2 separate regions of the Homo sapiens genome follow, and region 2 is linked to region 1. Evidence: fine-mapped expression QTL. A gene starts in region 1. The other region holds a variant in brackets. All regions are shown on one strand. Distances are between the middles of the regions. Region 1 holds the start of TAOK2 (TAO kinase 2). Region 2 has its middle 22 kb from the start of MAPK3.

The links.
Region 2: its variant is fine-mapped to the expression of TAOK2 in monocytes (Schmiedel 2018, PIP 0.95).

What each region holds. Positions count from the first base shown.
Region 1 is chr16:29,966,365-29,979,167 of GRCh38, reverse strand. It overlaps TAOK2 (TAO kinase 2), which reads right to left and starts at 5,300. Exons shown (of 16, transcript NM_016151.4): 1 at 4,520-5,300; 2 at 1,264-1,430; 3 at 1,008-1,079; 4 at 815-916; 5 at 324-369; 6 at 98-194. The coding sequence starts at 1,395. TMEM219 (transmembrane protein 219) reads right to left here. Exons shown (of 6, transcript NM_001083613.2): 4 at 10,914-11,143; 5 at 7,590-7,760; 6 at 6,120-6,218. The coding sequence ends at 7,623. LOC124903762 reads right to left here and starts at 5,546. Exons shown (of 2, transcript XM_047435036.1): 1 at 5,388-5,546; 2 at 4,533-5,171. The coding sequence starts at 5,546. The coding sequence ends at 4,533. RefSeq lists enhancers at 2,407-2,906, 2,907-3,408, 4,210-4,339, 4,046-4,817 and a silencer at 5,241-5,610.
Region 2 is chr16:30,138,950-30,151,752 of GRCh38, reverse strand. No RefSeq gene overlaps it. Among named protein-coding and RNA genes, the nearest start is that of MAPK3, 22 kb to the right of the region's middle. The variant C/T (reference allele first, on the strand shown) is at 6,676.

The sequences.
Region 1 (12,803 bases):
ACATGTGTCTCAAGAAAGCTAGGCAGGGGCAGCCCAGCTAAGTGACAGGTGGTGCAGATAGCACTCCCCTCCCAGGCACTGCCGGTGCTGCTTGTACCTATGGATCATGTTGTGGGAGTGCAGATATGCCAGGCCCTGAAGCGCCCCGTGGGTCACAGCTGCGATCTCTACCTCCTGAAGGGGTTTCTTGTGCACTGGAGAGTGAGGAAGAACATCAACCCGAGGGAGCGCAAGGGTGGGACTGGAATAAACTCCCCTTAACCCTTCCCTATGGCTCCCCTGCTCTTCTCCCTTCTCCACTTATTGGCCTATCAGTCACTTACCTTCTAGAAGGTCAGAAGCTGAGCCCAGGCAATACTCCATTACCAGCTAAGGAAGAGACAAGGGTCAGAGATCAGAGTCTCCTGGGCAGGGACTCAAAACAGAGCTTCCTTGACTGTCCTGTACTCAAGCTATGTCCCCGGGGTGATGACAGGGAGGAAGCGCAACTGGAGACAATGAGGGGGTGGTGGGAGAGTTTCTAGAGTCTGGGCCCAAGACATTCACCACTGCCCATCTGAATCCCTTCAAACTCCCATTCAATCTCCACCTTCTCCAGCCCACAGTGACCTGTCCCACCTGCTAACAGCCTGTGTCACTGAGCCAGGCTTTTGCTCAGTGGGTATGTCTGAGGACTAAAGCGGTCAAAAGAGACTTCCTCCTTCCCAAGATCCCACAACAGCACCACGAACAGGGACCACCTAAGAGACTGGACTACGATAAGGACGGGCATGAATAGGAGTAAAGATCAGGCCAGAATCTGGCACCAGCTCACCCAAGCCGTGTGCTCCCTCAGGTAACAGCCCCGGTACTGAATGGTGTTGGGATGCCGGAGCTTCTGTAAGAACCGCACCTCCTTGATGATGTCTTGCCATTTCTAGGGGGTCAGGGTAGGCAGAGGTTACCCAGCTTGCATCTTGAGACAGGAGTCCCCTGTCCCCAACCTGGCTGTATTGCACCTGGCCCACCTCATTGGACTGCTTCCCACTGTAGGACATCTTCTTGATGGCCACCACCTCACTATTCCGGACATCCCGGGCCTAGAGGACCAGACCAGAAGGTGTTGAAGGCCCCATTGAGAGCCGGGCATGGGAAGACTTGCTGGCCCAGCAAGAGAAGGCAGGAAAGACCAGTGTGATGGAGTAGTGTGCAAGGGCTGTTGGGAAGTCCACAGGGATAGGAAGAGTCCCCATCCCTATTACACCCTCCCAAGACCCAACTCACAAAGTATACGGCTCCAAAGCTGCCATGGCCAATTTCCCGGAGGTCAGAGAAGAGCTTTTCTGGGTCATCCTTGAAGAAGAGCTCAGCCACATCTGGGTCCTTCAGGCTCCCGGCCCGGCCCCCAGCTGGCATGGTGGCCCCTGGGGGCCCTGAGAGTGGGGCCTGGCCTGAGGAATGGAAATGGGACCCTTAGAGATCAAGGATTGAGCCTTCAGGGAGAGGAAGGGACCCATCAAGTTTCTGCCATCTCCTCCCCTCATTCCCTGATGAGGAGGAGGCACTGCTGAGGAAGGGGAGGGGGAGATTAGGAACAACATCAAAGCTCCAAAAAATGAAGTTGCCCTGGCAACCAGATCACGCGGGCTGGGTCCCTGGAGTCCCTAAAACTGCTAGGAAGATTCTGGGAAGCTAAGTATCCTCACCACCCCCTTCAGTGCTCAACAAGTTCTCATTTCCCTATAGCCCCTGTATCTCCCCTCAAGGATAAAACATTCTGCTTCCCAGCCAGCACTCCAGAGCCCCAAGTGTCCTGTCCCATAAGTCCTATACCCCAACTGTTTCCAGGCACCTTTCTGTTCCCCTTGGCGCTGAGGCCCCCTCCTCCCTCAACCTCTCACACCCTGGAAGAGAACAGGAAATGGCCAGGCCGGAGGCGGTGGAAATCCGTCCATTGTTAGAAGTGGGTACTGGCCCAGAGGAGCCCGCAAAGTCACTCTCAAAAAAGTCAGGGGGAGATCTAGAATGGGAAGAATAGGGATATAAATGGCATCTGGCTATGAGGGCCTCTCTGTGCTCTGGGCCACCTTACTTGTCCTGTCCAACTGCATAAGCATCACACACAGGTACAGGACATTTGCAGGGTACAAATAACATTTACTGAGTACCTTACGTGCATTATCTCTATTCAGTCCTCACTACAACCTTATGAAGCAAGTACTATGATTTCCCCTATCTTACAGATAAAGAAACAGGCTCAGCAAGGTTAAGTGCCTTGTCCAAAGCTGGTCCTCCATCACTATGATTTCAGAGCAGCCCTTCGAAACAGGCAGGGCAGAATCATGATCACCATTTCCTAGGTGAGGTCACTGAGGCACAGAGAAGAAAAAGGACTTCTCCAAGGTCAGAGAACAGGACCTTCGGCTCCCCGGTTAGGCCTGTATCCATTACTCTCTCAGCTGTCACCCCAAGCTCAGCTCCCCTCTTGCAGGAAGCCTGTCCTGACCACTCCAGCCATTGGGAAGAGCACCTAGGGCACCCAACCAAACACCCGGAGAAAGTTCCTGCAGGATACCAGAACCAAAACCCTCAAGGAGATTCCAAGACAGGCTCCAGCCTAAGCACTTGTCAGAATTTAGGCACAAAGGAGCCTTCAGCAGAGCTGGACTCCTGGGGCAGAGTTCTAGCTACTCAAAAGCACCTAACAATTTTAGCATGTAATTTATTCTGTCATGCATTGTTTCCTGTTGTGTTGTTAATTTTGTCTCAGCCCAACTGGAAGCTGGAGGGCAAGGAGGGAGCCTGACTCTCCAGTGGGCCCCCAGGGTGCAGAGGGCTCAGAATAGCCTGGGAGACTGAGTGATTGCTCTCTGCTCAGCCCTCAGCAGCTCGCAGGTTGCTCAAAGCCGGCCCTTTTCTCCCTTCTGCCAGCAACAGTGCCAAGCACCCCTCACCAGCACCACACACCCACACACAAAGGCAGGTGCTCTCAACTTGCCAAAGGAATCTTCCTGACCTCTTTACCAACACAAGGCCCCAGAATGCTAACCTAGGCCACACGGAGGGGTGCCACCCACTGGCAAAACATCATGCAGGTCCCCTTCCCCATAATAACAACAAACACTTGAACAATAACCAAGGTCTGTGCTAAATCATAACCACCTTCCAAAACGAACAATGTTATCTCCATTCTACAGATGAGGAAACCCGTATCTATCTGTTCCTAAGCTATGCTACCAGTACATCCCGTCTGCAATGTACAGCAACAGGGCTTTAAATAAGTTCCTTCCAGTTCTTGGTCTTCTCTTCAGTGAAATGGATTACAGCATGGAGCTGTTGTTAAGATTTTAATGAGATCTCATACTTAGGAACACCATGCAGACACTCAGCATATGGATTTTTCCTTCCCTGCCTCCAAGGTCCCCACAAAGCTTTAATCCTTTGGGGGATCATTCTACCCCAACAGCTTGGCTTGAACAGTTAAAAGATGCCACTAGTGCTACCATTTGTCAGGAGAGAGCCCTCTCAGGAATCCAGGCCAAACCCTGGGATTGGGGTAAAGATGAAGGTCACAGTGGATAGAAAACTCCATGAGGCAGAGGCAAAAGCCAGAGGCTCCCATCAGGAAAAGCTTCTGAGTAGAGCCCTCCTGGAAAGGAAGCTCATCTCATCCCCATTCTTAAACCTCACCCCAGCCTGGACTCCTAGGGACCCCTGGCCGAGCCCAAACTCAGAGGAAAAGAGATGGCAAGAACCAGGCATGCATCAGGGAAAGATGTGATTGAGGACTTGAGTTCAAATTCTGGTTCTGCCACTGTGTGACCTTGGGCAACCTCTCTCGGCCTCAACGTTCTCAACTGTAAAATGGGAAGATGCCAATAAAAGAGGCCCCCACAGGGTGAATGCGGGGATGTCACATGAGAGAATGGCTGTCAAAGCACTTTGTAAAAGACAGATCGTTTGACAAATGGATGAGATTATTGACACCATCACAGCAAGAGGTTGGAAGGTAACTGCAGCTGGGGGAAAACATTGCCAGGCACCTCCAAGCACACACACACACGCATACACACAAACACATATACACACACTTCCTTGCAAGGACAAGAAATCCAACCAGACCAGGCCTGAAAAGCAGATAAGCAGACCCACCATGGGAATCAGAGGCATGGGAATCAAAACCACAGAATAGCCAGGAGAACGGGACATATCAGGGAGGAGAGGTGGCTGTGAGGGGCAAAGTGAAGGAGAGAAGACTGAAGTGCAAATCCATCTGATTAGCTGAAGCACCCTAGGGTGTGAACGCCGGTGACATCAGAGACCCTGTCACCTGAGGTCCCCCACCAACCAGACACAATGAAGGGAAGAGGAAGGGGAAGGGGGTGGCAACAGAAGGCAAGGCTAGCCAGAGGCTGACCACTCGCTCAGCTGGGCTTCCCCATCCTGAGAGGGCCTACCCAAGTCCAGCTTCTCAGAAAGGCGCACCCTTTCTTCTCAGAACTAGACACAGGGACCCGCGCCCCTGCACCCCGTGTCTCACCTGGTAGGGGTCACTATGGTGCCCCAGCGCCTCCGCTTCCGCCTGGGGTCCTCCAGCGGCTCTGCCAAGCAGGGAGAGGGGCAAGGAGACCTTTCCCCTTGCCACCTCTTCCTCGGCTTTCGCCCTTCCTGAGGGGCGGGCCCGGGAAGCCTCCCCTGGAGGGGAGGGGGTGACAACCTAATCTGACCTCGCGGTCCAGTCCTCCCCCTCGTCGAGGGCGACAGCTGCCGAATTCCGGATTTCTGATTGTGGGGTCTGAACCCCGAATATCTGAACGGGATGGAGACTGAATCCGATATTTGAACGCCCGGGGAATGAACCCCGGATACTGGTGCACGCAGGGGCCTGAACCTGATATTTGAAATTCTATGAAACAGAGACCCAGGTTTAGAGAGGTTGGGACCCGAGTCCCGGATATCTGGACTATGAGGACTGTTACCCGGGTATCTGAGAAAGGAGGAGGGGCAAAGCCTGGAAATTTGGGACCCAGGGGCCTGAGCTGTAGGTCTTCGGCCACCGACTGGGGGCCCACCCCGAGGACGTCCGGCCGCACGGCCCCTCTCACGCCGGGGTCCGAGGGTGACAGCCCCCACTCCCGCCCCGGCCTCCTCCCTCTCCCTTCTCTCTTCCGAGAATAGCTGAACGATTGTAGCTAAGGTGCTGCTGACGGTCCCCGCGCCCTCTCTGCCTCTCCTCTTCTCCGTCTCAGCCTCTCTCCGCACCACAGCCCCGGTCTCGTCCCGGTCTCCCTCTCCCTCTTCCTCCCAATTCCAAGATGGAGACCGGGCGGGAGCGCGCAGGCGCGGTAGGGACGCCGGGCTAAAGGGGGCGGGGGCGCAGAGGACTCAGCCCCGCCCTCTCTCCTCACTGCCGCGGCCTGGGAGACCGGCAGCCGCCAAGCCCGAGTGCGCGCCCGCCCCGCCACGCGGACCCCAGGCCGGAGGAGGCGGGGAGAAGAGCTAGACTTGCAAGGGGAGGAGCCCGGCACTCTGTCCCACGACTGGCGGTGGACAGAGCTGCAGCGCATGCGCTCGCCCCGCCTTCGCTCTGAGCCCGAGCTTGTTGCTAGGGGAAGCTTTGAGGGGGCGCGGGTGGACGGACAGCAGCGGCGATCTGCGACTGCGCGCAGGGTGGAAGTTGGGAGGGGCAAAGGAAGCTGCTGCTGGGCGCGGAAAAGGCGGGAAAATAGACTGCTCCGAGGTTAGCAACCATCTAACCTGGAAAAGGGCCTCCAAGTGCGAGGAATCTTTGCGCGTCGACGCTGGGAAAACTCAATCGGTCAAATCTCTTACGGAAATTGAGGCGCTGCAGGTTGCAAGACTTGCCAAGGTCACAGTGCATTTATGTCACAGCATTTCCATGACCTGACACCCCACCCGCCCAACTAACTGTAATTATCCATTTTATTTCGTAGAAGAAAACAAGACAGGTGTTTACCAAAGCCAAGTCAACCATGGGGAGAGCTCAAGTAACCTATGCCCTATGCCAACCTGTGTCCAAACTAGAGAGTCAACAGGAAAGAGTCCCCCAAAACTTCTAAGCCTGCCTACCCTAAAATCCCCACCTCAATCCAACCCCCAATAAACACCATACACGCCACTGGGCAAAAAAGCTTTTTATTTTCCCCCACATTCCAGCTCTTCACTTTTTCTAAAACCTTTTCCAACTCAGAGCCAAGGCCCAAGAAGTTGATTCACACCTGGGGAGAAAGAAAATAAAACAACAAAACAGGTCGAAGAGCTGCTAGAGGAAGCTCTGAGATGTGTGCAGAAATTGAGGAAGGAGCAGAGGGAGTGACAGCTAGAGACCAATACGGGCATTTAATCCCAACTAAGGTAGCCTCAGGACCCCAGGGTCTGTCAGGGGCCAGGAAGCCCTCCTTTCCCAGTCCAAGGTTGAGAGGGTCCTGTCATTTCCTGTCCCAAGTAGGTGGTTGGGGCATTTAGGCCCAGCCATCAGCAAAATAAGCACAGTTGATCTTGAGCTTCCACTTCCTCTGGCCTGATCAGTTCCCTGGGCCTCAACTATTTCCACTTTTCCCATAGTAACTTCCTAGGGCACTGCAGCCAGCTGAAGCTGAGACCAGTTCAAGAGCTGGATGCATAACACATGGCTCTCAAATTTCATGCACCCCCCTCTGACAAGTGAAGATTTTTTGCAGAAATATTTTTTCCTTTAGTGAGCTGATGTGTGAACTGGTTAACCAACATGACCCCCACCCACTGCTACGTTTGTGAAGCTGATTCCCTCCAAAGATCTTGTTAACGGAATCAGCTTTTTCTAAAGGTAACGATGACTAAATGGAAGACAGAAGGTGCATGTCAAGTTCTTGGGCACATACTATGTCCCCAGTAAATGAGTATCATCAGTTAGACTCTTCTGAGCGGTTCAAGTTGAATTTTACAAAATTTCCATCATAAAACTGGGTATTGGAATTTCAGGACAAAAGCAAGACAAACATGGTTCATATTCAGGACAAATCATCAAATGTGAACCCTCTTAACTCACCATTGTTACCCAAATGCTTGGATGTGAACTAGTTATGAGTCTTAAAATCACAATGTTGCTTGAAAGAAGTCAGCCACAAAAGAATGTGTATGATTCTGTCTACATAGTTTCAAAAATAAGTAAAACCAAACTATATTATTTAGGAATACATACATGGCAATACATTATAAAGCAGGACAGTAATTTCTAGGGAGAGAGAGGGCATTGTCAGGAAGGAAGGGACCATGGGGGGTTTCTGGACAGCTGGTAATATTCTACTCAGTGGTATTTATAAGTATCCACTTTATAATAATTTGCCAAGCTGTCCTTTTATACTATTGGACTTTTCTACATAAGTGTTAACTATTTTATAATAAAAAAGTTAAAGTAATTAGAAAAATATTGAATGCTGACGGTGTCAAATTGTTCCCAGTCCCTAAGGGAGAGCTGTGGTTGAAGAGGTTCTCGGGGACTCAGAAGCAGCAGTCTTTGAGGAAAAGTCCAAGGATCTGCTCTACCCCGGTTACAACCCCCACCCCCACCCCATTCCCTGCTCCCGCAGGACTGGAGCAAAGAACCTCACCTGAGAAACAAGTCGGGAACTAGGCCAGTGCCCTCAGAGCCGGGTTCTAGACCAGTGGGACTCCCGGCGCGGGTGGAAGCACATAGCAGTGACACAGCAGAGAAGGCCACAGAAGAGAAGCAGGAAGGAGCCCAAGACCAGCAGCCTGGAGCCACACAGAGCCAGCTCCTCCTAGGGAGGGGTACAGGGAGAGGAGGAGGAGGACATGTTAATCCAGTCCAAGGGCTATAGAAGGAGCCTCCATGAGGGAGAGGGCTCTCCACATCTAGGGAGCAACTGAAGGGAAAATGTTATTTTCATATAAGCTGACATTTGTCTTTTTTTTTTTTTTTTGAGATGGAGTCTTGCTCTGTCGCCCAGGCTAGAGTGCAGTGGCGCGATCTCAGCTCACTGCAAGCTCCGCCTCCTGGGTTCACGCCATTCTCCTGCCTCAGCCTCCCAAGTAGCTGGGACTACAGGTGCCCGCCACCACGCCTGGCTCATTTTTTGTATTTTTAGTAGAGACGGGGTTTCACCGTGTTAGCCAGGATGGTCTTGATCTCCTGACCTCATGATCCGCCCACCTCGGCCTCCCAAAGTGCTGGGATTACAGGCGTGAAACACCGCGCCTGGCCCTTTTTTTTTTTTTTCTTTTTGAGGCAGGGTCTCACTCTGTAACTCAGGCTGGAGTGCAGTAGTGCAATCTCGGCTCACTGCAACCTCCGCCTCCTGGGCTCCAGCGATCTTCCCACCTCAGCCTCCTGAGTAGCTGGGACCACAGGTGTGTGCCACCACGCCCAGCTAATTTTTTGTGTGTTTTTTTGTAGAGATGGGGTTTCACCATGTTGCCCAGGCTCGAACATTTGTCTTGATGGTTTAAAAACTACTTTCTTGCCCAATTATCAACCTGAAACCCCATCATAACTCCATGAGATAGGAAACTTCATTATGATCCACAGTTTAAAGATGTATAAGTGGCTGGGTGCGGTGGCTCACACCTGTAATCCCAGCACTTTGAGAGGCCGAGGTGGGTGGATCACGAGGTCAGGAGATTGAGACCATCCTGGCTAACACAGTGAAACCCCATCTCTACTAAAAATACAAAAACTTAGCCGGGCATGGTGGCGGGCGCCTGTAGTCCCAGCTACTTGGGAGGCTGAGGCAGGAGAATGGCGTGAACCTGGGAGGCGGAGCTTGCAGTAAGCTGAGATTGCGCCACTGCACTCCCGCCTGGGCGATAGAGCAAGACTCCATCTCAAAAAAAAAAAAAAAAAAAGTGCAAGCAGTGCTAGATCTGGAAACCAGATCTCTGATTCCAAGTCCCAGGTTGTGCTCCTCATGGGGTCTTTTCTTTTTTTCTTTATTTGAGACGGAGTCTCACTCTGTTGCCCAGGCTGGAGTGCAGTGGCATGATCTCAGCTCACTACAACCTCTGCCTCCCAGGTTCCAGAGATTCTCCTGCCTCAGCCTCCTGAGTAGCTGGGATCACAGACGCCCGCCACAACATCCAGCTAATTTTTAAATTTTTAGTAGAGATGGGGTTTCACCATGTTGGCCAGGCTGGTCCTGACCTCAAGTGATCCACCGGCCTTGGCCTCCCAAAGTGCTGGGATTACAGGCGTGAGCCACCGTGCCTCATGGGGTATTTTCAAATGTGAGAGTGGAGTGTGCAGCAGCCTCCTGACTGATGGCCCTCCTCCACTCAGCCATTCTCCACCCAGCACCAGGGAAGCACATCTCTCTCCTCCTTAAAACTCCTCAGTGGCCCCCACGGCCTTCAGCATCAGGTCATAGCCCTCTATCCTGCATTCACAGAGCCTCTCCATCAAATCCCTGTGGTCTCTCTTGCCTTTTCTCCTTCCTAAGCCTCTCAACATGGAGTGCTCCCAAAGGCTGAACACTTTCTTTTTTTTTCCTTCTTGAGACAGGGTCTCACTCTGGCAACCAGGCTGGAGTGCAGTGGCACAATCATGGCTCACTGCAGCCTCAAACTCCTGGGATCAAAGGATCCTCCCACCTCAGCCTCCTGAGTAGCTGGGACTATAGGTGTGTACCACCACACCCTGCTAATTAAAAAAAAAAATGTTTTTTTTAAGAAATGGGGTCGCCAGGCGCAGTGGCTCACACCTGTAATCCCAGCACTTTGGGAGGCTGAGGTGGGTGGATCACGAGGTCAGGAGATTGAGATCATCCTGGCTAACAAGGTGAAACCCTGTCTCTACTAAAAATACAAAAATTAGCCGGGCATGGTGGCAGGCGCCTGTAGTCCCAGCTACTCGGGAGCCTGAGGCAGGAGAATGGCATGAACCTGTGAGGTGGAGCTTGCAGTGAGCCGAGATTGTGCCACTGCACCCCAGCCTGGGTAACAGAGTGAGACTCCGTCTCAAAAAAAAAAAAAAAAAAAAAAGCGAAAAAGAAACGAGGTCTTGCTATGTTCTCCAGGCTGGTCTGGAACTCCTGGCCTCAGGCATTCTCCTTGCTTCGGCCTTCCAAAGTGCTGGGATTACAGATGTGACACCTGGCTGAACACTTTTCAATCTCTAGGCCTGTGCGCATGCTGGTGCCTTTGCCTGGAGTGTACCTCCCCCTCTCCTGAACCTCCTCTACTGCAGTCCCTGTCCAAATCTTCCTCATTCTTCAAGGATCATTCTGACTTGACAGAAGGTGTGGGTTGCAACCCTGGCTCTGCCACTTAACCAGTTGTGTGGCCTGCAGCAATTCACTCCCTTTCTCTAAACCTGTTTCCTCATCTGTAAAATGGGATAATAACACCTACCTCAAAAGGCTATTTTAAGATCAAATGAATTAATGAACCCTGAGAGCACTTTGTGCATTATAAACCACTGTGCACAATGCTCTCTGGTAAATGCCACCTTCTCTGTGATGCACTCTCCATAAATGTTCAAGTTAGGGTTAATGGCTCCTTTCTCTGTGTTTGCATAACACTTTGCTCACATCTCTCTAATAGCAATTAGCCCATTTGCCTCTTATTATAGCTTCTGAACTCCTTTGAAGTAGAGAGAATGTTTTAAAGACAATAGTAAACAACAATAGCTGTCACTTATCAAATCTCTATGTCCCAGGCAATGTGCTGGGCACTTCACGGTCATTCTCATTTAATCCTTATTTGATGGAATTAAGAGATAGGGTCATGTTTTCTGTTTTACAGATGAGGATGCTGACACTCAGAGATGTTTAGACACTTGTTCTACGTCACACAGCCCCCAAGGCAGGGTTATAAAACCTGTGCTTTTTCTACAAGGTAGAATTGTTTCCAGGGACCTTCAAGATACAGTAGTCAGCAGGCAGTCTACAAAACCCTGGCGACCCATCTGAGGCTCTTACCGAGGTGAGCAGCTTGGTCAGCACAAGGCCTTCATGGCTCCAGACACTAACACATTCCTCACCCATTCTAGGGCTCAGGGTGGCATTTCCAGCCCCCTCCTCTGAGCAGGATATGGGTGGCTGGCTGGAGGGTAGGATTCCTGGAACAGCACTAAAATATAGGCAGGTTCCTGCAGTCCTTTCTGTGGTCACCCTGGCTGTGATAAGGACCAGTTGTCCTGCAGAAGATCCTGTGAAAGGCACAGAAGAGAAAATGGAAGAAAATGAGAGGTGACGCGGGAGCCTCTGTCTTCACGCTTCTTTTCTTGTATTTTCTTTTTTTTTTTTTGAGGCGGAGTCTCGCTCTATCACCCAGGCTGGAGTGCAGTGGCGCAATCTCGGCTCACTGCAAGCTCCGCCTCCCGGGTTCACACCATTCTCCTGCCTCAGTCTCCCGAGTAGCTGGGACTACAGGTGCCCACCACCAGGCCCAGCTAATTTTTTGTATTTTTAGTAGAGACGGGGTTTCACTGTGGTAGCCAGGATGGTCTTGATCTCCTGACCTCGTGATCCGCCCGCCTTGGCCTCCCAAAGTGCTGGGATTACAGGCGTGAGCCACCGTGCCCGGCCCTTTTCTTGTATTTTCTTTCTTTCTTTATTTTTTTGAGATGGGGTCTCACTTTGTCGTGCAGGTTGGAGTGCAGTGGCACGATCCCAGCTCACGGGAGCCTCAACCTCCTAGGCTCAAGTGATCCTCCCACCTCAGTCTCCTGAGTAGGCAGGGCTACAAGTGTGTGCCACCTACCTGGCTAATTTAAAAAAATTTTTTTGTAGAGACAGGGTATCACTGTATTGCCCGGGCTGGACTCAAACTCCTGGGCTCAAGCCATCCTGCTACCCTGACCTCCCAAAATGTTGGGATTCCAGGCATGAACCACCACGCCTGCCCCTAGTCATTTTTTAAGGCTTTCTATAATACCAGGTGTTTTGGCATTGATTCTATTCAATAAAGTATTCCATATACCATTATTTATATCACTGAGAAATGAAAATAACTTTGTATCAATATAAACACAAATTAAGTTGTAATTTAAATTAACTTAAATTACAATCAATACAACAACCATACTAATACTCGCAAGGCTGCAGTGAAATGGGCAGATACACATTGCCCATGTCAGTTTGCATAAACTAGTTCATTCTTTTTAAGAAAGCAGTTTCTCACTTGGTACCAAAATCCATTAAAAGGTTCTCACCCTATTTTAAATTAGTGGGGAAAGGATGGCCTCAGTAAATGGCCTTGGGAAAATTTCCATGTAGAAAAAAACATAGCGTCAAACTGTTATCTTATAAAATAAAGTTCAGATGTATTAAAGAACTATACAAACTAAAAAAAAACTTAAGTATTTAAAGAAAATACAGAATATTTTATTTTATTTTATTTTATTTTATTATTTTTGAGACAGAGTTTCACTCTTGTTGCCCAGGCTGGAGTGCAGTGGTGCAATCTCAGCTCACTGCAACCTCCACCTCCTAGGTTTAAGCAATTCTCCTGCCTCAGCCTTGTGAGTAGCTGGGATTACAGGTGCCCACGACCATGCCTGGCTAATTTTTTGTATTTTTAGTAGAGACGGGGTTTCATCATGTTGGCCAGGCCAGTCTTGAACTCCTGACCTCAGGTGATCCACCTGCCTCAGCCTTCCAAAGGCTGGGATTATAGGAATGAGCCACCACGCCTGGCCAGAATATTTTCTAATTTTAAAATGAGGAAGGGCTTCCTATGAAAGACACAAAACCTAAAAGTTTTAATAAAGGACAAGAGTGATAAACCTAACCTCATAAAAATTAAAGACTTCTATGCAATGAAAGATAAGTTAAAAAAACAAGTAACATATTGAAAATACCTATAAT
Region 2 (12,803 bases), 170 kb before region 1:
CACATTTGTCCATGCTTGAGTCATGCCTATCCAATTAAGTCTCCATAAAAGGCCAAAAGGACAGGGCTTAGGGAGCTTCCGGATAGCTGACCATGTGGAGGTCATACAGGAGTTAAGAAGAAATTACTTAGGCAGATAGTAAGGGTACAGAAGTCTTTGGTAAGGTTCTCCTTTTAATGAAAAGCAGCCCCAAATTATTTTCCTTTCTAACGAAGAGTAGCCTGTAAAATCGAGCTGCAGACATAGATGTTGGCAGTTGTGCCAATCATGTTCAAGATGGTGGCTCCATCTTCCCTTCTCTTTGTCAGCCACGTGTACAGTAAAGAGCAGACAAGATGGCGAAGGCCAAGGGGAAAGTTCATTTGCATAATATGATTAGGGTGAGGCAGCCAGCCTTCCCTGCATGCTATGTAATATCACTCTTGATCAAACCAATCTGTGAGTCCTATGTAAATCAGGCACCACATCCTCAAATCTGACTATAAAATATGGCACATCCCCCACCTGCTGGTCTTTTCCTCTCAGAAGTCCCCACTCTCACTAAAGAGAGAGCTGTGCCAGACATGGTGGCTCATGCCTGTAACCCCAGCACTTTGGAAGGCCGAGGCGGACGGATCACGAGGTCAGGAGATCGAAACCATCTCTGGCTAACACAGTGAAACCCCATCTCTACTAAAAATACAAAAAATTAGCTGGGCGTTGTGGCATGCACCTGTAGTCCCAGCTACTCAGGAGGCTGAGGCAGGAGAACGGCATGAACCTGGGAGGCGGAGCTTGCAGTGAGCTGAGATCTCTGCCACTGCACTCCAGCATGGGTGGCAGAGGAGACTCTGTCTCAAAAAAAAAAAAAAAAAAAAAAAAAAAAGAGGGAATCATGGAAACCCCAATTTGAAGCCAGTCGGTCAGAAGTTCTGGTGTGTGTAGGGGTGCAGTCTTGTGGGATTGAACCCTCAACTTGTGGGATCTGATGCTATCTTCAGGTAGATAGTGTTGGAATTGAATTGGAGGACACTCAATTCAGAATTGTCCATTGGAGAATTGGTTGTTTGCTTGGTGTTGGCAGGAGTTCCCCCCAACATTTGGTCACAGAAGACTTCTTTTTTTTTTCTTTTTTCTTTTCCTTTTCTTTTCTTTTTTTTTTGAGACCAAGTCTCACTCTGTTGCCCAGGCTGGAGTTCAGTGGTGTGATCTCTGCTCACTGCAACCTCTGCTTCCCTGGTTCAAGCATTTCTCCTGCCTCAGCCTCCCCAGTAGCTGGGATTACAGGTGCCTGCCACCACACCTGGCTATTCTTTTTGTGTTTTTAGTAGAGATAGGTTTTCACCACGTTGGTCAGGCTGTTCTTGAACTCCTGACCTCGTGATCCACCCACCTTGGCCTCCCAAAGTGCTGGGATTACAGATGTGAGCCACCGCACCCAGCCCGGTCACAGAAGACTTCTGTAGTGATTGTTACTGTGGTGTGAGAGCCAAGAAAAAAAACAGTTTGTGTTTTTTCTTCAGAGGTTTTGATTTGCATTTCCCTGGCGATTAAAGTTCTGATTTTTTAGTGGGTTCCTTAGGATTTACAGGATCTTATATATTTTCTTTTTTTGTTTTTGTTTTGTTTTGTTTGAGACAGAGTCTGACTCTGTCACCCAGGCTGGAGTGCAGTGGCACGATCTCAGCTCACTGCAAACTCTGCCTACCAGCTTCAAGGGATTCTCCTGCCTCAGACTCTGAGTAGCTGGGATTACAGGTGTGCACCACCATGCCCAGCTAATTTTTTGTATTTTTAGTAGAGACGGAGTTTCACCATGTTTGCCAGGCTGGTCTCAAACTGCTGATCTCAAATGATCTGCCCACTTTGGCCTCCCAAATGCTGGCATTACAGGCATAAGCCACCACGCCCGGCCTTGGATCTTGTATATTTTCTATATACAAGATCATGTAATCTATAGATAGTTTCACTTCTTTCTTTCCAATCTAGATGCCTTTTATTTCACTTTCTTGCTTAATTTTCCTGGCTAGAATCTCCAGTACAATACAGAATAAAAGTGGTAAGAGCGGACTTCCTTGTCTTATTTTGATCTGTCAGGAACTTTCACCATTAAGTATGATGTCAGCTGTGGGTTTTTCACAGATGCTCTTTATCAGGTAGAGGAAGTTGTCTTTTACTTGTAGTTTGTTGCATGGTTTTTTTCTTACGAAAGAATGTTGAATTTTGTCAAAGTTTTTTTCTGCATTTATTGAGATGATTAATTGCTTTTTTCCATTTATTCTAAAATTATGGTGTATTAAGTTAATGTATTTTCAGATATTGAACCAGCCTTGCATTCCTGGGATCATTCGCACTTGATCATGGTGTACTGTCCTTTTGATGTGGTGCTGGATTCTGTCTGCTGGTATTTGAAGATTTTTGCCTCTATATTAATAAGAAATACTGATCTGTAGTTTCCTTTCTTATGTCTGGCTTTGGCATCAGGGTAATACTGGCCTCATAAAAAGAGTTGGGAAATGTTGCCTCTTCTTCTATTTTTTGAAAGAGTTTATGAAAAACTGGTATTAATTTTTCTCTAAATGTTTAGTTAAATACAGCAGTGAAGCCCTGTGGGCATGAGCCTTTGTGGAAGTTTTTGTTTTTGTTTTTGTTTTTTCTCTCGAGAGGGAGTCTCGCTCTGTTGCCCAGGCTGGAGTGCAGTGGCACGATCTCATCTCACTGCAAGCTCCACCTCCTGGGTTCACACCATTCTCCTGCCTCAGCTTCCCATGTAGCTGGGACTACAGGCACCCACCACAATGCCTGGCTAATTTTTTTTTAGTAGAGACGGGGTTTTACGGTGTTAGCCAGGATAGTCTTGATCTCTTGACCTCGTGGTCTGCCCACCTCGGCCTCCCAAAGTGCTGGGATTACAGGCATGAGCCACCACGCCAACCTGTGGGAAGTTTTTTATTACTACTTCAATCTATTTACTTGTTATATGTCTATTCAGAATTTCCATTTCTTCCTGAAATTTGGTAGGTTTTTCTTGTTTTTCTAGGACTTTGTCCATTTTTCTAAGTTGTTTAATTAATTGGCATACAACTATTTATTGTATTCCTTTATAATACTTTTTATTTCTTTAAGGCTCATAGTAATGTCCCCAAGGTGTCTAATAAGAGGTCAGCTCTAGTTAAGTGGAGGCTGAAATAAATCATTTGAACCTCAAATAACTTTGGGGGAGGTCAGGTACTACATATATATATATATATATTTTTTTTTTTTTTGAGATGGGGTCTCACTCTGTTGCCCAGGCTGGAATGCAGTAGTGTGATCTTGGCTCACTGCAATCTCTGCCTCCCAGGGTCAAGTGATCCTCCCACCTCAGCTTCCCAAGTAGCTGGGAGCTGAGAGCACAGGCATGCACCACCACACCCGGCTAATTTTTTGTATTTGTTGTAGAGACCGGGTTTTGCCATGTTGCTCAAGCTGGTGTTGAATGCCTGAGCTCAAGTGATCCACCTAGCTTGGCCTCCCAAAGTGTTAGGATTACAGGCGTGAGCCACTGTGACCAGCCTAGTACTACATTTTAAATCTTTCATTTTTGCTGACATGAAAAGCTATTTATCTGTAAAAGTGGAACCTATCAATTAATCAGATTAAGCAAAAACTTTACATGTGGTCTGTCCAGAATAGGCAAATCCATGGAGACAATAATTAGATTAGTGGTTGCCAGGGACTTGGGGAGTAGGGAGGGGACAGGGAGTGGCTGCCAATTAGTATAGAGTTTCTTCCTGGGGTGAAAATATTTTGGAATTACATAGTGGTGACAGATGAACTTTGTGAATCAACTAAAAACCAAACCCACCAAACTGTACACTTTGAAAGGGTAAACTTAATGGTGTATGTTTTATATTCCAATAAAGCTGTTATTTTTTAAAAAGGTTATATGGGCCAGGCGCAGTGGCTCACACCAGTAATCCTAGCACTTTGAGAGGCTGAGGCGGGCGGATCACTTGAGGTCAGGAGTTCGAGACCAGCCTGACCAACATGGTGAAACCTCGTCTGTACTAAAAATACAAAAATTAGCCAGGTGTGATGGCGGATGCCTGTAATCCCAGCTGCTCGGGAGCCTGAGGCAGGAGACTCACTTGAACCCAGGAGGTGGGGGCTACATTGAGCTGAGATTGCGCCACTGCACTCCAGCTTGGGCAACAGAGCAAGATTCTGTCTTCAAAAAGAAAAAGAAAAAAAAAAAAAAGGTGGCTGGGTGTGGTGGTTCATGCCTGTAATCCCAGCATTTTGGGAAGCCAAGGCGGGTGGATCCCAAGATCAGGAGATCGAGTCCAGCCTCACCAACATGATGAAACCGCGTCTCTACTAAAAATACAAAAAAAATTAGCTGGGTGTGGTGGCACGTGCCTGTAGTCCCAGCTACTCAAGAGGCTGAGGCAGAAGAATTGCTTGAACCTGGGAGGCAGAGGTTGCAGTGAGCCAAGATTGCGCCACTGCACTCCAGCCTGGTGACAGAGCAAGACTCCATCTCAAAAAAAAAAAAAAAAAAAGTTATATGTGAACTCTGTTCCTAATTTTAAGTTATGCTGTATGTTCCTACCTTTCAATGATGGAATATGAAAGGAGAACAAAAAAGGAAAAGAAAAGAGATAAGGGCTCTCTTACTGTCAACTTACTGTATTACCCTTCTAAAATATAAACCGGGCCGGGCACGGTGGCTCACGCCTGGATTCGCAGCCCTTTGGGAGCCTGAGCCGGGCAGATCACCTGAGGCCAGGAATTTGAGACCAGCCTGGCCAACATGGTAAAACCCTCTCTCTACTAAAAATACAAAAATTAGCTGGGCGTGGTGTCACGCACCTGTAATCCCAGCCACTCAGGAGTTTGAGGCAGGAGAATCACTTGAACCTAGGAGGCGGAGGTTGCAGTGAACATAGATTGAGCCACTGCACTCCAGCCTGGGTGACAGAGCAAGACTACATCTCAAAAAAAAAAAAAAAAAGCTGGACGTGGTGGCTCACACCTGTAATCCCAGCACTTTGGGAGGCCAAGGCAGGTGGATCACCTGAGGTCAGGAGTTGGAGACCAGCCTGGCCAACATGTGAAACCCTGTCTCTACTAAAAATACAAAAATTAGTCGGGTGTGGTGGCGGGTGCCTATAATCCCAGGTACTTGGGAGGCTGAGGCAGGAGAATCTCTTGAACCCCACAGGCAGAGGTTGCAGTGAGCTGACATCATGCCACTGCACTCCAGCCTGGACAACAGAGCAAGACTTTGTCTCAAAAAAAAAAAAAAAAAAAAGACCGGGCGCGGGGGCTCACACCTGTAATCCTAGCACTTTGGGAGGCCGAGGTCGGGGGATCACGGGGTCAGGAGATCGAGACCATCCTGGTTAACACGGCGAAACCCCGTCTCTACTAAAAATACAAAAAATTAGCCGGGCGTGGTGGCGGGTGCCTGTAGTCCCAGCTATTCAGGAGGCTGAGGCAGGAGAATGGCATGAACCCGGGAGGCGGAGCTTGCAGTGAGCCGAGATCATGCCACTGCACTCCAGCCTGGGCGAAAGTGCGAGACTCTGTCTCAAAAAACAAAGTGATTAAGTTTGAACTGACAAGTAGTTTGTTTTCTCTACTTCTTCTCACTGATCTCCTCCTTTCAATTAATGAGTGCCCAGATAAGCTCTGTCCTCAATCTGTCATGCAGCCTAAGGGTGGCTGCACACATTGGTAAATGAGTTTGATATTCCTGTGGCCCAGATTGCTCAGCCCTTGATCATGTTTTCCTTTTCCTTCACATCCACCTATGATGCTCAAGCATCAGGTACAATCCTGACATCCCAAACTTCTATTTTTTCACCTGTTAACTGGTGCAATCAATGACATCACTCACACCAACCGGGGATGAGGGAAAAGTACAAATTATCACATCCTGTCTATATTTGTAAATGTCTTCATCAACATTCAAATGTGCAAATGTTTTTACTGCAAGGCTCTGAAGCTGACTAACATGATAAAATGCTCTCATTCCTTCTAGCAGAAAATCCAGTCTTCTTATCCCAGCCCTCAAGGTCTTCTTTGCCATCTGCTGCTCCAATTGTTCTCCACACAACTCCTGTTTTTTTTTATTGATACATAATGTATTCCAGGCCAGGCGCAGTGGCTCACACCTGTAATCCCAGCACTTTGAGAGGCCAAAGCAGGTGGATCACCTAACATCAGGAATTCAAAACCAGCCTGACCAATATGGTGAAACCCCATCTCTATTAAAAATACTAAAATTAGCTGGGTGTGGTGGCGGTCGCCTGTAATCCCAGCTACTCGGGAGGCTAAGGCAGGAGAATTGCTTGAAACCAGGAGGCGGAGGTTGCAGTGAGCCAAGATTGTGCAATTGCACTCCAGCCTGGGCAACAGAACAAGATGCTGTCTAAAAAAGAAATATATATATTATATATATCTCACATATATAATATATCACATATATTATATAATATATCACACATATCATATATAATATATATCACATATACCACATATATTATATATGATACATAATATACCACATATATTATATATGATACATAATATATCACATATATTATATATGATACATAATATATCACATATATTATATGTGATACATAATATATCACATATATTATATGTGATATATATCACATATATTATATATGATATATGATATAT[C/T]GCATATATTATATATGATATATGATATATCACATATATTATATATCATATATGATATATCACATATATTATATCATATATGATATAATATGTGTTGCATATGATATATCATATATGTCATATATATATACACCATGCTTATGGGGTCCATGAGAGTATTTGTTACATGCATAGAATGTGTAATGATCAAGCCAGGGTATCTGGGGTACTCATCACCTTGAGTATTTCTCATTCCTATGGGTTGGGAGTAATTCAAGTTCTCTTCTAGTTACTTTGAAATATACAATTCATTGCAGCCAACTATAATCACCCTACTCTGCTATCAGATATTAAAACTTTTTTTTTTTTTTTTGAGACTGAGTGTTGCTCTGTGGCCCAGGCTGGAGTGCAGTGATCTTGGCTCAGTGCAACCTCTGCTTCCCAGGTTCAAGCAATTCTCTTGCCTCAGTCTCTGAAGTAGCAGGGATTATAGGCACCTGCCACCACGCCTGGCTAATTTTTTTTTTTTTCCAGTAGAGGTGGGGTTTCTCCATGTTGGCCATGCTGGTCTCGAACTCCTGGGCTGAAGCAATCCACCTGTGTTCGCCTCCCAATGTGCTAGGATTACAGGTGTGGGCCATCATGCCCAGCCTAATTCTGTTTTATAGTCAAATAGTATTCCATTCTGTATACATACCATAGTTGATTTATCCACTCCTCCATTGATAGATACTTAGGTTGATTCCATATCTTTGCTTTGTGGATAATGTGGATAATGATGTGGTAAGAATATGACAACTCTTTTTTTTTCCTTCAAGACAGGGTCTTGCTCTGTTACCCAGGCTGGAATGCAGTGGTGCAATCACAGCTCACTGTGGCCTTGAATTCCTAGGTTCAAGTGATCCTCCTGCCTTGGCCTCCCAAAGCACTGGGACTATAGGCATGTACCACCACACCTGGCTATTTTTTTAAATTTTATGTAGAGACAGTCTCACTCTGTTGCCCAGGCTGGTCTCTAACTCCTGGCCTCAAGCAATCCTCCTGCCTTAGCCTCCCAAAATTTTGTGATTACAGACATGAGCCACCATGCCTAACCAAGACAAGGTTTACTTTTAAAAAGTTAGAAGGGGCCAGGCACAGTGGCTCACGCTTATAATCCCAGCACCTTGGGAGGCCGAGGCGGGCAAATCACCTGAGGCCAGGAGTTCAAGACCAGCCTGGCCAACATGGTGAAACCCTGTCTCTACTAAAAAAAAAAAAAAAATTAGCCAGGCATGGTGGCAGGCGCCTGTAACCCCAGCTACTCGGGAGGCTGAGGCAGGAGAATCGCTTGAACCCAGGAGGCAGAGGTTGCAGTGAGCCAAGATCACACCATTGCACTCCAGCCTAGGTGACAAGAGTAAAACTCCACCTCAAAAAAAAAAAAAAGTTAAAAGGCATCAGGTTAAAGATAGTAGACTAAACACATGTATTTACTTCTGTTCTTGCCCCAAACATAATAAAATGGCAGTAAGAGAATCTTTCTAATGCCACACACCCACAGGAAGAGTAAGAATAGGAAAGAAGACAATACGAACAAAAATGTTTAAGCCAGGTACTAATAGAGGGACTCATGGTAACCAATTTACTAGAACCAAGGAAGTGGAATCGAGCTGGCATTGGAAAAAATGAGAAATTGCTAGGTTTTCTTTGCAGAAGCCACAAAAGACATAGAAATTGGCACCTTCAGGCAGGAATTGGAAGAATCTTCTGAAGGGACTGTGATCAAGCCAAGAGGAAAGTCCTGAAGACACTGACATCAGGAGCTCCCTGGGAAGCCACCAGCAAGGTCACCCCCTAGCACACAGTGCCACACAGTGGAGAGAGGTTTTTTTTTTGTTTGTTTGTTTGTTTTTGAGATTGGGTCTCACTCTGTCACCCAGGCTGCAGTGCAGTAGCACAATTACAGCTCACTGCAACCTCAAACTCGTGGGCTCGATCGTCCTCCCACCTCAGCCTTCCTGGTATCTGGGACTACAAGTGTGCACCACCGTGCCTGATTTATTTTTTTTCTTATTTTTTTTTGAGATGGAGACTTACTCTGTCGCCCCGGCTGAAGTGCAGAGGCACGATCTCAGCTCACTGCAACCTCTGCCTCCCTGTTCAAGTGATTCTCTTGCCTCAGCCTCCTGAGTAGTTGGGATTACAGGCATCCACCACCACGCCTGGCTAATTTTTGTATTTTTAATGGAGATGGGGTTTCACCATGTTGACCAGACAGATCTCGAACTCCTGACCTCATGACCCGCCCGCCTTGGCCTCCCAAAGTGCTGAGATTACAGGCGTGAGCCACCATGGTCAGCTTTATTTTTTTATTTTTTGTAGCGATGAGGTCTTGTTATGTTACCCAGGCTGGTCTTGAACTCCTGGACTCAAGAGATCCACCTGTCTTGGCCTCCCAAAGTGCTGGGATTGCAGGCATGAGCCACTGTGCCCTCAGCCTGGGGAACTTTTAAAAGGCTTTTAATAGCTCCAGCTTTAGTATGCACAGACCCCCAAGATTCACCACGTTTGAGGAAGGCATCCAATATAGAAGACAGGTTCGGGAGCGGTGGCTCACACCTGTAATCCCAGCACTTTGGGAGGCCGAGGCGGGCGGGTCATGAGGTCAGGAGTTCGAGACCAGCCTGGTCAACATGGTGAAACCCCGTCTCTACTAAATATACAAAAATTAGCCAGGCATATGGTGGCGGGCACCTGTAATCCCAGCTACTCAGGAGGCAAAGGCAGGAGAATCACTGGAACCCGGGAGGCGGAGGTTGCAGTGAGCTGAGATCTCGCCATTGCATTCCAGTCTGGGCAACAGAGCAAGACTGTCTCAAAATAATAATAATAATAATAAAGACAGAGGCTGAAAGGGTGAATGGATAAACAAACTGTGCTACCTACATACAGTGGAATATTATTCAGAATTTTTTTTAAAATAGGAAATTTTGATACATGCTACAACATGGCTGAACTTTGAGGACATTATACTATGTGAAATAACCCTGTCCCCAAAAGACATATACTGCATGATTCCACTTATGTGAGGTACCTGGAGTCAGAGTCATAGAGATAGAAAGTAGAGTGATGGTTGCCAGGGGCTGAGGGGAGGGGAGAGAGGGGAGTTGTTGTTTAGTGGGTTCAGAGTTTCAGTTTTGCAAGATGAAGAGTTCTGGAGATTGGTTGCACCACAGTGTGAATGTACTCAACACCACTGAACTGAACACTAAAAAATGGCTCAGATGGTACTTTGGGAGGCCGAGGCGGGTGGATCACCTGAGGTCAGGAGTTGGAGACTAGCCTGGCCAACATGGTGAAACCCCATCTCTACTAAAAATACAAAAATTGGCCAGGCGCACATCTGTAATCCCAGCACTTTGGAAGGCCAAAGTGGGTGGATCACCTGAGGTCAGGAGTTCCAGACCAGCCAGGCCAGCATGGTGAAACCCTGTCTCTACTACAAATACAAAAATTAGCCGGACGTGGTGGCACACACCTGTAATCCCAGCTACTCGGGAGGCTGAGGCAGGAGAATTGCTTGAGCCTGGGAGATGGAGGCTGCAGTGAGTGGAGATCGTGCCACTGCACTCCAGCCTGGCCAAGAAAGCGAGACTCTGTCTCAAAAAAAAAAAAAAAAAAAAAGGTACATTTATGTTGTGTGTATTCTACCACAATCACAATTAACTTTTTATTTATTTATTTTTTTTTGAGACGGAGTCTTGCTCTGTCACCCAAGCTGGAGTGCAGTGGTGCAATCTCGGCTCACCGCAACCTCCACCTTCTGGGTTTAAGCAATTCTCCTGCCTCAGCCTCCCGAGTAGCTGGGATTACAGCCTTGTGCCATCACGCCCGGCTAATTTTTTGTACTTTTAGTAGAGACGGGGTTTCTCCATGTTGGTCAGGCTGGTCTCAAACTCCTGACCTCAGATGATCCGCCTGCCTTGGCCTCCCAAAGTGCTGGGATTACAGATGTGCGCCTGGCCAATTTTTGTATTTTTAGTAGAGATGGGGTTTCACTATGTTGGCCAGGCTAGTCTCTAACTCCTGACCTCAGGTGATCCACCCGCCTCAGCCTCCCAAAGTGTGGGATTACAGGCGTGCAGGCGTGAGCTACCACACCCAGCCTACAATGAGTGCATTCTTTTTTTTGAGACAGAGTCTAGCTCTGTTGCCCAGGCTGGAGTGCAGTGGCACAATCTCGGCTCACCACAACCTCTGCCTCCCGGGTTCAAGTGATTCTCCTGCCTCAGCCTCCAGAGTAGCTGGGACTACAGGCGTGCAAGACCATGCCCGGCTAATTTTTGTATTTTTAGTAGAGACAGGGTTTCACTATGTTGGCCAGGCTGGTCTCGAACTTCTGACCTCATGATCCATCCACCTTGGCCTCTGAAAGTGCTGGGATTACAGGCGTGAGCCACTGTGTCTGGCCATGAGTGCGTTCTTATAAAGCCCAAAACAGGCAGGAACTAAGCCTGTTTAGAAATGCATACATGGTGCAGCTGGGCGAGGTGGCTGATGCCAGTAATCCCAGCACATTGGGAGGCTGAGGCAGGAAGATCACTTGAGCTCAGGAATTCAAGACCAGCCTGGGCAACATTGCAAGACCCTGTCTCTACAAAAAATTTAAAAATTAGTCGGGTGTAGTGGCACGCATGTGTAGTCCCAGCTATTCTGGGGGCTGAGGTGGGAGGACTGCTTGGAGCCCAGGAAGCTGAAGCTGCAGTGAGCTGTGATTGCACCACTGCACTCCAGCCTCCGGTACAGAGCAAGACCCTATCTCAAAATAAAACAAAACAAAATAATATGAAATAAAACCAATAGAAAATGGAATATGTTTGAATGTGATAAAGGATTGACATCTCAAGGTAGCATTCAGGATTGAACTAGTGTTACATAGCAAAAAAACACAGCAGCTAAAATGTGACATAATGAACTCAGTGTGGTGGAGGGGAAAGAAGGAACAAACAGTGCAGGGAAGAAGTGTTTGTGGAAAGGGCATGGTTCAGCTGTGAACAGTGTTTACATAGCTATAGGATATAGACTCTGAATATCTGTGTACCCAGAACCGAGGCACAGTGACATGGAAGAATGAAAACAGGAAGTGCACACGTGCATATGTAGGAATAGAGATGTGGGCTGTCGGGGAGAGGTGGAAGAATTGTAAAGCCTCAACCTTCAAAATGATAACAGGTAGTGCCTAAAACCGAGAAATCAGCAAGTACAATATGAACATGCTGTTTAGAGACATGGAAGTCAATACCAATGGCCCAGCCAAAGCGGTGGAACGTTCTTGCCTCTGGGGAACAGGAAATGGGTCATGAAGGAGCCCTGGTTTTTCATAATACGCCTATAGAGCCCAGCTTCAGCGGCTCATGCCTATAATCCCAGCACTTTGGGAGGCCGAGGCGGGAGGATCACTTGAGCCCAGGAGTTCAAGACAAGCCTGGGCAACATGATAAGACTCCATCTTTACAAAAAATTGAAAAAATTAGCTGGATATGGTGGCATGCACCTGTACTCCTAGCCACTTGAGGGGCTGAAATGGGAGGATTGCTTCAGCCCAGGAGTTCAAGGCTGCAGTGAGCAATGATCACACCACTGCACTCCAGCCTGGGAGACAGAGTGAGACCTTGTCTCAAAGAAAAAGAAAAGCCAGGAGGCCAGGTGCCGTGATTCATGCCTGTAATCCCAGCACTTTGGAGGCTGAGGTGGGCAGATCACTTGAGGTCAGGAGTTCGAGACCAGCCTGGCCAACATGGTGAAACCCTGTCTCTACTGAAAATACAAAAATCAGCTGGCGCAGTGGCGCACGCCTGTAATCCCAGCTACTTGGGAGGCTGAGGCAGGAAAATTGCTTGAACCTAGGAGGCAGAGGTTGCAGTGAGCTGAGATTGCACCACTGCACTCCAGCCTGGGTGACAGAGCGAGACTCCGTCTCAACAAAAAAAGAAAGGAAAGGAAGGAAAGAAGGAAGGAAGGAAGGAAGGCCGGCCGGCCAGGTGCAGTGGCTGACACCTGTAATCCCAGAACTTTGGGAGGCATAAGTGGGAGGATGACTTGAGCCCACAAGTTCCAGACCGGCCTGGGCAATGTACTGAGTCTCCACAAAAAATCTGTAAAAAAAT